Linked DNA regions of Homo sapiens: region 1 is linked to region 2. The links come from fine-mapping of genetic effects on gene expression. A gene starts in region 2. The other region holds a variant in brackets. All regions are shown on one strand. Distances are between the middles of the regions. Region 1 overlaps RUNX3 (RUNX family transcription factor 3). Region 2 holds the start of RUNX3 (RUNX family transcription factor 3).

What was found. PIP is the estimated chance that this variant, and not a neighbour inherited with it, causes the effect.
Region 1: its variant is fine-mapped to the expression of RUNX3 in testis (GTEx, PIP above 0.99).

Annotation. Positions count from the first base shown.
Region 1 is chr1:24,902,730-24,907,030 of GRCh38, forward strand. All of the region lies in intron 4 of RUNX3 (RUNX family transcription factor 3), which reads right to left. Among named protein-coding and RNA genes, the nearest start is that of MIR6731, 15 kb to the right of the region's middle. The variant G/T (reference allele first, on the strand shown) is at 2,342.
Region 2 is chr1:24,927,782-24,932,154 of GRCh38, forward strand. RUNX3 (RUNX family transcription factor 3) reads right to left here and starts at 2,495. Exons shown (of 5, transcript NM_004350.3): 1 at 1,806-2,495. The coding sequence starts at 2,087. RUNX3-AS1 (RUNX3 antisense RNA 1) reads left to right here and starts at 2,676. Exons shown (of 4, transcript NR_183341.1): 1 at 2,676-4,245. RefSeq lists enhancers at 701-1,435, 1,084-1,263, 1,436-2,169, 3,609-4,198 and silencers at 1,734-2,173, 2,374-2,843.

The sequences.
Region 1 (4,301 bases), 25 kb before region 2:
AATGACCTTGGGCTCTGGTTCCCAAGGCCCATCTGGGGGACCCCTAGTTCTAGACCTGGCTCTCCTCTTCCTGCCCTAGGCTGCCCGGGGCCTCCCCCGCCAGGACTCCGAACACAGACCTGCCGGGAAGCTGGTTGGAGCGTGCCCCGGGCCAAGAGGGGCCATGGGAGCCCCCCCACAGCAGCAACAGAACAGAGGAGGGGGTCTATTCTTCTTTTTAAATCCTCCTTCCCAGCCTCGCAGAGGAGAGGCCTAGGATGCGGTGGTGGGGCTGAGGGCAGAGTCAGCTCAGGCCTCCCAGCAGCCCTGCCCAGGCAGGTTCCTCTCCCCACCGGCCCATGTTAACAGCTGGGAAGGCCGTGGATGTGTAAAGGGCTCCAATGACCGTGTGAGACTGGGAGTTGGAACCCGCTTTTGAAGACAAGAAAATGGAGGCAGAGAGAGAGCAAGACTGAGTCTCTGTGGCAGAGAAAGGACTGGTTCTCATCACAAGGCCTCTGCTGGGGACACACGTGCCTCTCCTGCCCAGGTGCAGCACGCGGAGGTTCTGTGCGCTCACACCTGGGTTGTGGGCACTGAGTTCACAGGAGCTCTGGCCTCCACCTCACCCTGGGCCTGTGTCTCTGGAGCCGACTCGTGGCCACACAGTGACTGGATGCCACCCTAACCTGCCTTGGCAGCAAAGTGAGACAGCAGTCAGACAAACTTGGGGACCCAGACCCCAACCTGGTCACAGTGTCCAGCCCAGACTCTGCCCCTGCTCCCCCAGGAATGTGGCTTCTCAATGGGCTCCAAGGCAAGGGTGTTCCATCCTCTGTCCCCAACTTTTGTCATCACAGACCCCCAAAACCTCAGCATTCAAAGGGGCTCAGGGATTGAGTCTAACACCCTTGATGGGGAAACTGAGGCCCAGACAGGGTGAGGCACTTCCCTCAGGGTCACACAGCACATTGGACCTGGCACACAATCCTAGGGCCTCTGGTCCTGAGCCCCAACACGTACTTGAGAGGGAGCTGTCCCGTCTTTGAGGCAGCACAGGATCAAGGCTTACTGTGTGGCTTCTGGAGCCGGACAGTTATCCTGGTTTGGACACTTACTAGCTTTGTGTCCTTGGGCAAGTCACTTAACCTCTCTGCGCATCAGTTTCCCCATATAAAACATGAGACGATAACAGTTCATCAGGATTCAGTTAATTCACATCGAGTACTTAGAATGGCACTGGGCACAGAGCAGGGGTCCATGAGGCTTTGCAAGGCCACTGTGGCTGTGGTGTCTCTTACTCTGGGTACCCAGGAGAACTGGCTCATTCAGGGCCCTGCCAAGTTGAGGCCCTGGTGCAGGGCCTCCCTTCTACTCTGGCAGCCGGGGGAGGTGGATGAGCCCCCAGCAGTGGTCCAGAGGTGCAGTCTGTCCAGCCCAGCAACCCCTCTGTGTCACCCACCAAAGGATAAGGGCCGGTGCTAGCCGGAGTGGGCTCTGCCTGCCACGCCGAGGCTTGGCTGAGGACGGAGAGCTATGAGCCTGAGGTGTGTGTGACTTCGGCTGGGACTTGGAACTTCTCGGGGCTTTGGGGTCTTCCCAAGTCAGCTGGGGTATGTTTCCCTCAGCAGCGTACTCTGGCCCTGGGCGTGGATCCGAACGGAGTGATGCTCCTGGCTTAAGGTAAGAAGATGTGGGGACAGCAGTCTGGGTGGCGGGGGCCTTCTGGGACATCTGGGATGTTCCCTAGTAGGTCACTTGGCTGTCCCGGCCCCTTGAGGCCGAGAGCCTCCGAGGCACCTGGCTGCCAGTTTTCATCTGGGGAGCCCCTCGGGGGGAGAGGTCCTGTTGCAGGTGCTGGGCACGTCAGCACAGCTGAGATGGGTGGGGTGGAAGTGGGTGCTGGCCGCCTGATGGGAACCCCATTCTCAAGACGAAGGAAACAAATGGGGACCGCAGGATACAACGGCAGGACTGTGCCCCTCAGAGCTCACGCGGGCTGCAGGGCGCTGGGCTGGGCCTCCCTGGACCTGCCACCATCCCCTCCAGCCTCTTTCCTCAGGGCCACCACCCCTCCTCCGGGGTGGTGGGGGAAGTACCTGCCCTCAGCACTCCCTCAGACCCCCCAGCAGCTTCCTTGGAGCTCCTGTACCCCCACCCTGCGGCCTCGCAGCCCCAGGAAACCCGAGCTGCCCGGGGCACTGTCGAGTGGCCAATCCCAACAGTGGAAAGAAATGTTTATTTTCTTCTCCAGATTGTCCGGGCTGCTGCATGGTGGCTGAATGAGCCCTTTCAGCTGTGAGAAGCCCCCATTGTGGGCGGCTGCGGCTGGGGGCTGGGGCTGGGGTATGGGAGGTGCTGG[G/T]GTCTCTGCACTGCTTGCCAGTGACCAATATTGGAGGGTCAAAGCACTTAACAGGCACCGAGGGAAGTGGTGGTGGGGTGTCCCAAGGGGGATCCCCAGGAGGGAGTCCGAGGGCAGAGGGAGGAGGGCCTGTGAGAGTGACTTCCCAAGCCTAGGTCTGCCAGCAACCCCTCTTTGTCAGGGACCTCCTTCTCCCCACTTCACAGATGAGAAAACTGAGGCTGAGTTTAAGTGACTTGTCTAAGATCATACAGCCAATGCCTGGCAGAGCCTGAATTCCTAGCCTGGTCCAGCTGACTGCAGAGTTCATGCTCGCCCTGTCCTGGTCATCCGAGGCCCTTTCTCTCACCCAAAGGGGATGGGCCTGAGGATGGAGATGCCTGGCTGCCTGTGGCCCAGTGCTGTGGGGGGCTAGCGAGGGACTGGGCCAGGCCTCAGGAGGGAGCAGGCAGAGAAGCAGAAGTCAGCCACTGCCCCACACAGGCTGGGCTCCTTTCCTCCCAGCCCAGGATGGAAGCAGCAGCTGTGCCTGCCGTGGGGCCAGGCATTGATTCCCAAGCTGTGCCCACCCAGCAGTGGATGGGCAGATGTGGGCTCTCCTTCCATGGGGGCTGGTGGACAGGAAGCCACTGTTCACCCCACCTCCTGGATTCTGGCTCCCCCGCTGAGCCCCGATCCCCTGGCCTGGCTCTGTCCATGGCAGAGAAAGGCTGGCTCTCAGGCTACTGCACCTCGACAGATGCTGGCCCATGGGTAGCAGAAGCAGAGGCAGCTACGCGGCAGGGGTGGGCGTGAGCACAGCGTGCAGGGCTCCTTCCGCTACCTCTTGAGAGCAGACCTCCAACTCCTGGGCTCGAGAGCTGAGAGTCTCAAATGCACTAGCTCCTGGGCTCAGAGAGGCTGGGCCTGGGGCTTCTCCCAACCTTGGCGTCTCAGCAGGACCAAGGCCAAAAGTCCTGAGCCCAGGCCAGAAGGGGAGGGGTCCTCTCTTCACACTGAAGGCCTGCATCCAGCCCCTGGCTGCAGCACTATGCCTGGAACAATGTCAGTAGAGAGACCCAGTCGGCCCCCACCTCAGCGTGGCACCGGAAAAGGGGGTGGGGCAGGCAGACCGGTTGGCAGCCCTGTTCCAGGCCCCTTTATCTGTCCCCTCAGAAGTACAGAAAGTTCTTGGGAGCAGGTACTGTGGAGACTGTGGACCTGGTCACAGATGGGCTGTGTGACCCGAGGGTGGCTCTGAACCTCTTAGGCCTCTCAATTCATTCATCTGCCAAGGGGTTCTAACCAGGCTCTGGGGAATTGAGAAAGAATGGGCACAGTCCGTGACGGCAGCCAGCTGCCTGCCTCTGTCCACCCGGCCACCAAGCACCCTTGGCACCCCACTTAGCCCAAGGGCCGGCTGTGCACACAGCCTCCCATGTCCCCAGCTCACTGACTGAGAGAACAGAGGAGAGATGCAGCCGGCAGCCGTTTAGTGAGCGGCTACTATGCGCCAGGCACCTCGATACTCCAGAAGACCTGCCTGAGGCCTGGCTGCAACTGTGCTTGCTGTATCCGTCTAGGCAGTGGAGATGGAGACCCCAGCTCGGTCTTCCCTTCCACCTCAGCTCCTCCTGTTTGGGAGGATGCTCTGGGCAGGGTGGGAGACCTTTCCCAGGAATGCTATGTGCCTCTCTAGGGTTGGAATGTCACTTAACAGTGTGCAAAGTTTGTGTGAGTACAGTAATGTCATTTGAATGTCATCCCAGCCCTGGGTGGAGGCATCCGCCCCAATCCACTTTCAGATGAAAAATCGCAGGCTGTGGGGCAGGGGTGGGGAAACTGTACATGGCAGGGGCGAGTCTGTCACGGCTCCTTGGACAAGTCATGCCCCAATTTTAATAGGGGCACTATGGGGTTAACCCCATTTCCCCAGGCACAGTGAACTCCTGGTATGCAGATCCCTGGGGCCAGGCACCAG
Region 2 (4,373 bases):
GTGACCAGGGAAAGGAGGGGAGGGGCTGGGCTGGGCAGCTCCCCCAGGTCCCAGGCACACTGAGTATTTCTCCAATGCAGGGTGGAGAAGAGGCTTAAAAACAATAAAGACCTTCCCCCAAATATCACGAAAACAAGAAGATGGAATCTCGAGCTTCCACACCAAAATCCTAGATCAACTGCTTACATAAACTGTGTCCCAAGAAATCATCCTTTCAATGAAATCTAAGCCAGAGCTGTGAATCAGCTCAGTCACTATGATGTGGGGTGCAGTTCCCCTGTTGTCTTCGGCTGCAGCGAAAGAGGAATCAACATGCTCCTAGCAACGAAGTCTCCAAATGAGAAAGAGTAACAACAATAATAACAACAGGGCTGCTACCCCCACTCAATTTATGCAAGAGCTGTTTAGGGCATGAAATTTGGCCCTGAAATGTGGACCAGGCCCAGTTTATTGGCCTCTGCAGAGCCTAAATTCGTTATGCAGAGAAAATGCAGAATGCAAAACTCACTGGTGTTTTGAAAAAGGCCACCAGAAAACCCCTTTAAAGTGAGAGTGGGGCTTTTGATAATGGAAGGATGCACCTGCCGGGAATTGCAGGATGGGGGTGGCGATGTCCCCCTAAACACCATCTCCCCCAAATCCCCCACCCCCAGGAGCACGGAGAGGCGGATGCCTTTTGAAAAAGAATCAGACTTTAAACAGAGTCACAACTATTTAAACGTGGCCGCCGCGTGCAGGGACTGGGGATCCATATGGTAAAAATTTCAAGGAGAAAATGTTTGGGATCTGATTAAGAAGACCAGATTTCCTGTCAACATCCTGTCTTCTTTTAATTTCAAAGACTCCTTTTAAGCTCCAAGTGACAGTAAAACCTCCGATCTGACGATTAAAGTCACACGGGCCTCCCGCCCCTCCCGGCGAGATTTCCCCCACTGGTATTTTAAGATGTCACCCGGGAGACCTCAAAGAGCCACTCTTCCTTTTTTTCCCATTTAGAGTCGTCTTAATGGGAGCAGGGACGGCCTCAGCTTCCAGCCACCTCGGGCAGCACCACCCCCAGCCGCCGGCCCTTCCTGCCCTGCCCTTTTCTCACGGCAGCTGTGAGAGGTTTAGGGGAAAACCGAGGCGTTTTCGTTTCATCTCGCTGCCCCCTTAAAAAAATGAAAATGAAACAGTCGCCTACTCCCTGGCATAAAGAAAAAGGTCCTCTAAATGGCTGGGGGCTGCCAGGGTTAGGGGTCCCCCAATCTCAACTCGCCATTCGGGACGCATAATATCCCCGAGCAAACGTCTGGAGAGCAGTGCCCCGATCCCGGCCTAGCGCCGTCCGGTAAAATTTCGGAAGCCCGAGGGTGTGAGCAGGAAGCTTTTGCGAAGCGGCGCGGGAGGAGGGGTGCTGGAGGCGGAGGGTAGGCCCTTTCACCGTTCGCACCCCACCCGCGGTGTCCTTGCCCCTGTCCCGGGATCCTCTTCTCCGTTACCCGCAGGGCTGTATCTGAGCGATCCGGGTTAGGGGGGCGCAAAACCCCATCCGCCCATTTCCGCACCAACGTCTCTACGCAAGGCGCCCCAAAACCCAGGTGGAGCGGGGCAACCCCGTTAAAAGTCATTCCTGCAGGGCGCATCCAAAACGGAACGCCGAGGTCCCGGAGCCGAGCGCGCAGCCAGACTGAACCGGGTGCCCGGGTGTCGCCGCGGCGTCTCGGGCACCTCCCATCCCCACTGCTCCCGAGGCTCTGGCTCCCGCAGCTCAGACGCCCGGAGCCCCAGGGCCGGCGCCCTCCCGCCCCGGGTCCCGCACTCACCTTGAAGGCGACGGGCAGCGTCTTGTTGCAGCGCCAGTGCGAGGGCAGCACGGAGCAGAGGAAGTTGGGGCTGTCGGTGCGCACGAGCTCGCCTGCGTGGTCCGCCAGCACGTCCACCATCGAGCGCACCTCGGGCCGGGCGCGCCCTCCGGGCCCCACGGCCGCCTGCGCGCTCAGCGCGCCGCTGTTCTCGCCCATCTTGCCGCCGCCGCCGCCGCAGGGGAAGGCCGGGGAGGGAGGTGTGAAGCGGCGGCTGGTGCTTGGGTCTACGGGAATACGCATAACAGCGGCCGTCAGGGCGCCGGGCAGGCGGAGACGGCGCGGCTTCCCCCGGGGGCGGCCGGCGCGGGCGCCTCCTCGGCCGCCGCTGCCGCGAGAAGCGGGAAAGCAGAAGCGGCGGGGCCCGGGCCTCAGGGCGCAGGGGGCGGCGCCCGGCCACTACTCGCCAGGGCCCGCCCGCTGCGAGGCCTCGCTGGCCCGACGGCCGCCCGCAGCCTGCCCGGCTAGTCCCGCATCCTCGGCGCGCGGCCCCGCGTGCGGCCGCCCCTCGTGGCTGTCCCGGCTGCCTGGGCCGCGGCGGGGCCCGCGCGGGGCTGTGCCGCTGCCGCCGCCTCCCGCCCCGAAGCTCGCCCGCGGCCGCCCCGACTCCGCGGCCGCAGCCCCAGAACAAATCCTCCAGAATCAAGTGGCGGGGCCGCGGCCGCCCGCGCGGGGTTAGTACCCCCGGGGCCCGCGGGGCGGGGCTGGCGGAGCGACGCGTCGCACAGCCAATCGGCGGAGCCCCCATCGCGGGCACCTCGGTGGCGTTCGCGGGGAGGAACGGGGCCTGCCGGAGGCCGCCCAACGGGGAGGGGCGGAAGGCGCCACCCCGCGGAGGAGGCCCCAGTGCCACAGCCCAGGGCCCCCGAGAGCTCTGGGAGCCCGGGGCAAATGCTAGAAATTTGCTTAGAACGTCCGGGTCCCACGGAAGGCGCCCTTGCCGCCCTCTCTCGGGTCGTAGCTCCCTGACGCTGGGGCGCAACCCCTTCGCTCCTCCTCCCCGCTGGCCGCGGCCGGGCTTCCCCAGCTCTTGCTGCTTCGGGCCTGTGACTTCTGCAACCCCGGGCTGGGGGCCGCGGGGTCTCAGGGCCGGTGACGCCGCACTGGGAGCCGCCCCAAAGAGGTTACTCACCTCCCTCGTCCCGCACATTATTCTGACCCAAGAGCCTCCACCCCACACGGGATTTTGCGCGTCGTCCACGCCCGGCCGGCGGCCTTTGCTGCTCCCAGCCCTGCGCGGCTTTGGTCCCAGCCTCGGTGGCCCCTGTGCCAAACCGGGGACAGGCGGAAGGGAGTCTCCTAGGGACCCTAAGTAGCCTGGGGCCAACAACCCCTTTCCTCTCTGCTCTCCCCTCAAAACAAGTTTCAGGATCTTGCAGGCCTCGCGGCGTCGTTCTTCGTTGTGGCGGCCTGTGGCTCTTTGAAAAACACGACGAGGCCTGCAAAATGCGTTTTTCTTTTTTTCCTTTACGCATGTAACCACGGTCCTGCATCGTGAAACGGTACGCGCGTCGGTGGCAAAAGAAAAACAGCAGTGGCTGCAAAGCTAAGGGCCCTCGCTTTCAGAGGAGAGAATTTTCTTTCTCCATGCGGGTGGAAAGTGGCCTCTGCGGGTCCAACCCCACTTCTTCTTGGGCCCGTGCGCTCCGGCTGCGCCGCAGGGACCGCGGACAGCTTCGCCAAGGCACTGCCTGCCCGCCCGGCTCCGGGTCCCCGCTCCCACTCCCAGCCGCGTGGCCCAACCTCTCCTGGGCTTCACTGCAAATCACCCCTTCCTCTCCCGCCTCCTAAGTCTGTCGAGCAGACCTAGGGGCCGGCTACAGTTGGGAGGGCAACGGGAAAGATCAAGCCACAATCATTCCGAATTATCGCCCCAGACACCTCCCTAGACTCTGGGGAACGAACGCGTGCTGAGCCTCCCCGCCGCTTTGGAGACGGGGCTAGATTTTCGTTGCCTCCGGCTCTCGACAGGTGCAAAACAATGAATTCCAAGCCTCGGAAGCAAAGAAGCTTAGGATCCGACGGTGGCCGCAAGATCTCATCATGGATCTGACCCCTGCTCAGCGCGCGCCATTTCGTCGTTGCCAAACGAAATCAAGCCCCGCGTGCGCTCCAGGGGCGAAGGACTCTGGACTCACCCCGACCACCGGGAGAGCTGGCCCCTACCCACCTCGGGACCTCACAGCACGCCCTCAGGCCGTGTCGAAAGGAAGGACGGCAAAGGTCCCTTACTGAACCTTTTAAGAGAGCCTGCGCCTGGCAGTTGTCGATTGCGGACCCAGGCCCGCGCGCCCTCGGACGCGCTGGCACGAGCAGCAGAACTAGAGGAAAGCGAGTGATCCAGCCTGGGCGCTCCCACCTCCGGGAACGTCTCCGAGAAGGCGCAGCGCGTCGTGGCCAGGTAGGGCCCTGGCCGGGGGCGGGCAACACGTGCTGCCCTCGAGCAGGTTGCGGGACCATGACCCGCTGTTTCAGGTGGTGGTAAATTCCATTTGTCGAATGGTTTCGGTTTGCACCGTGCCCTTTGCT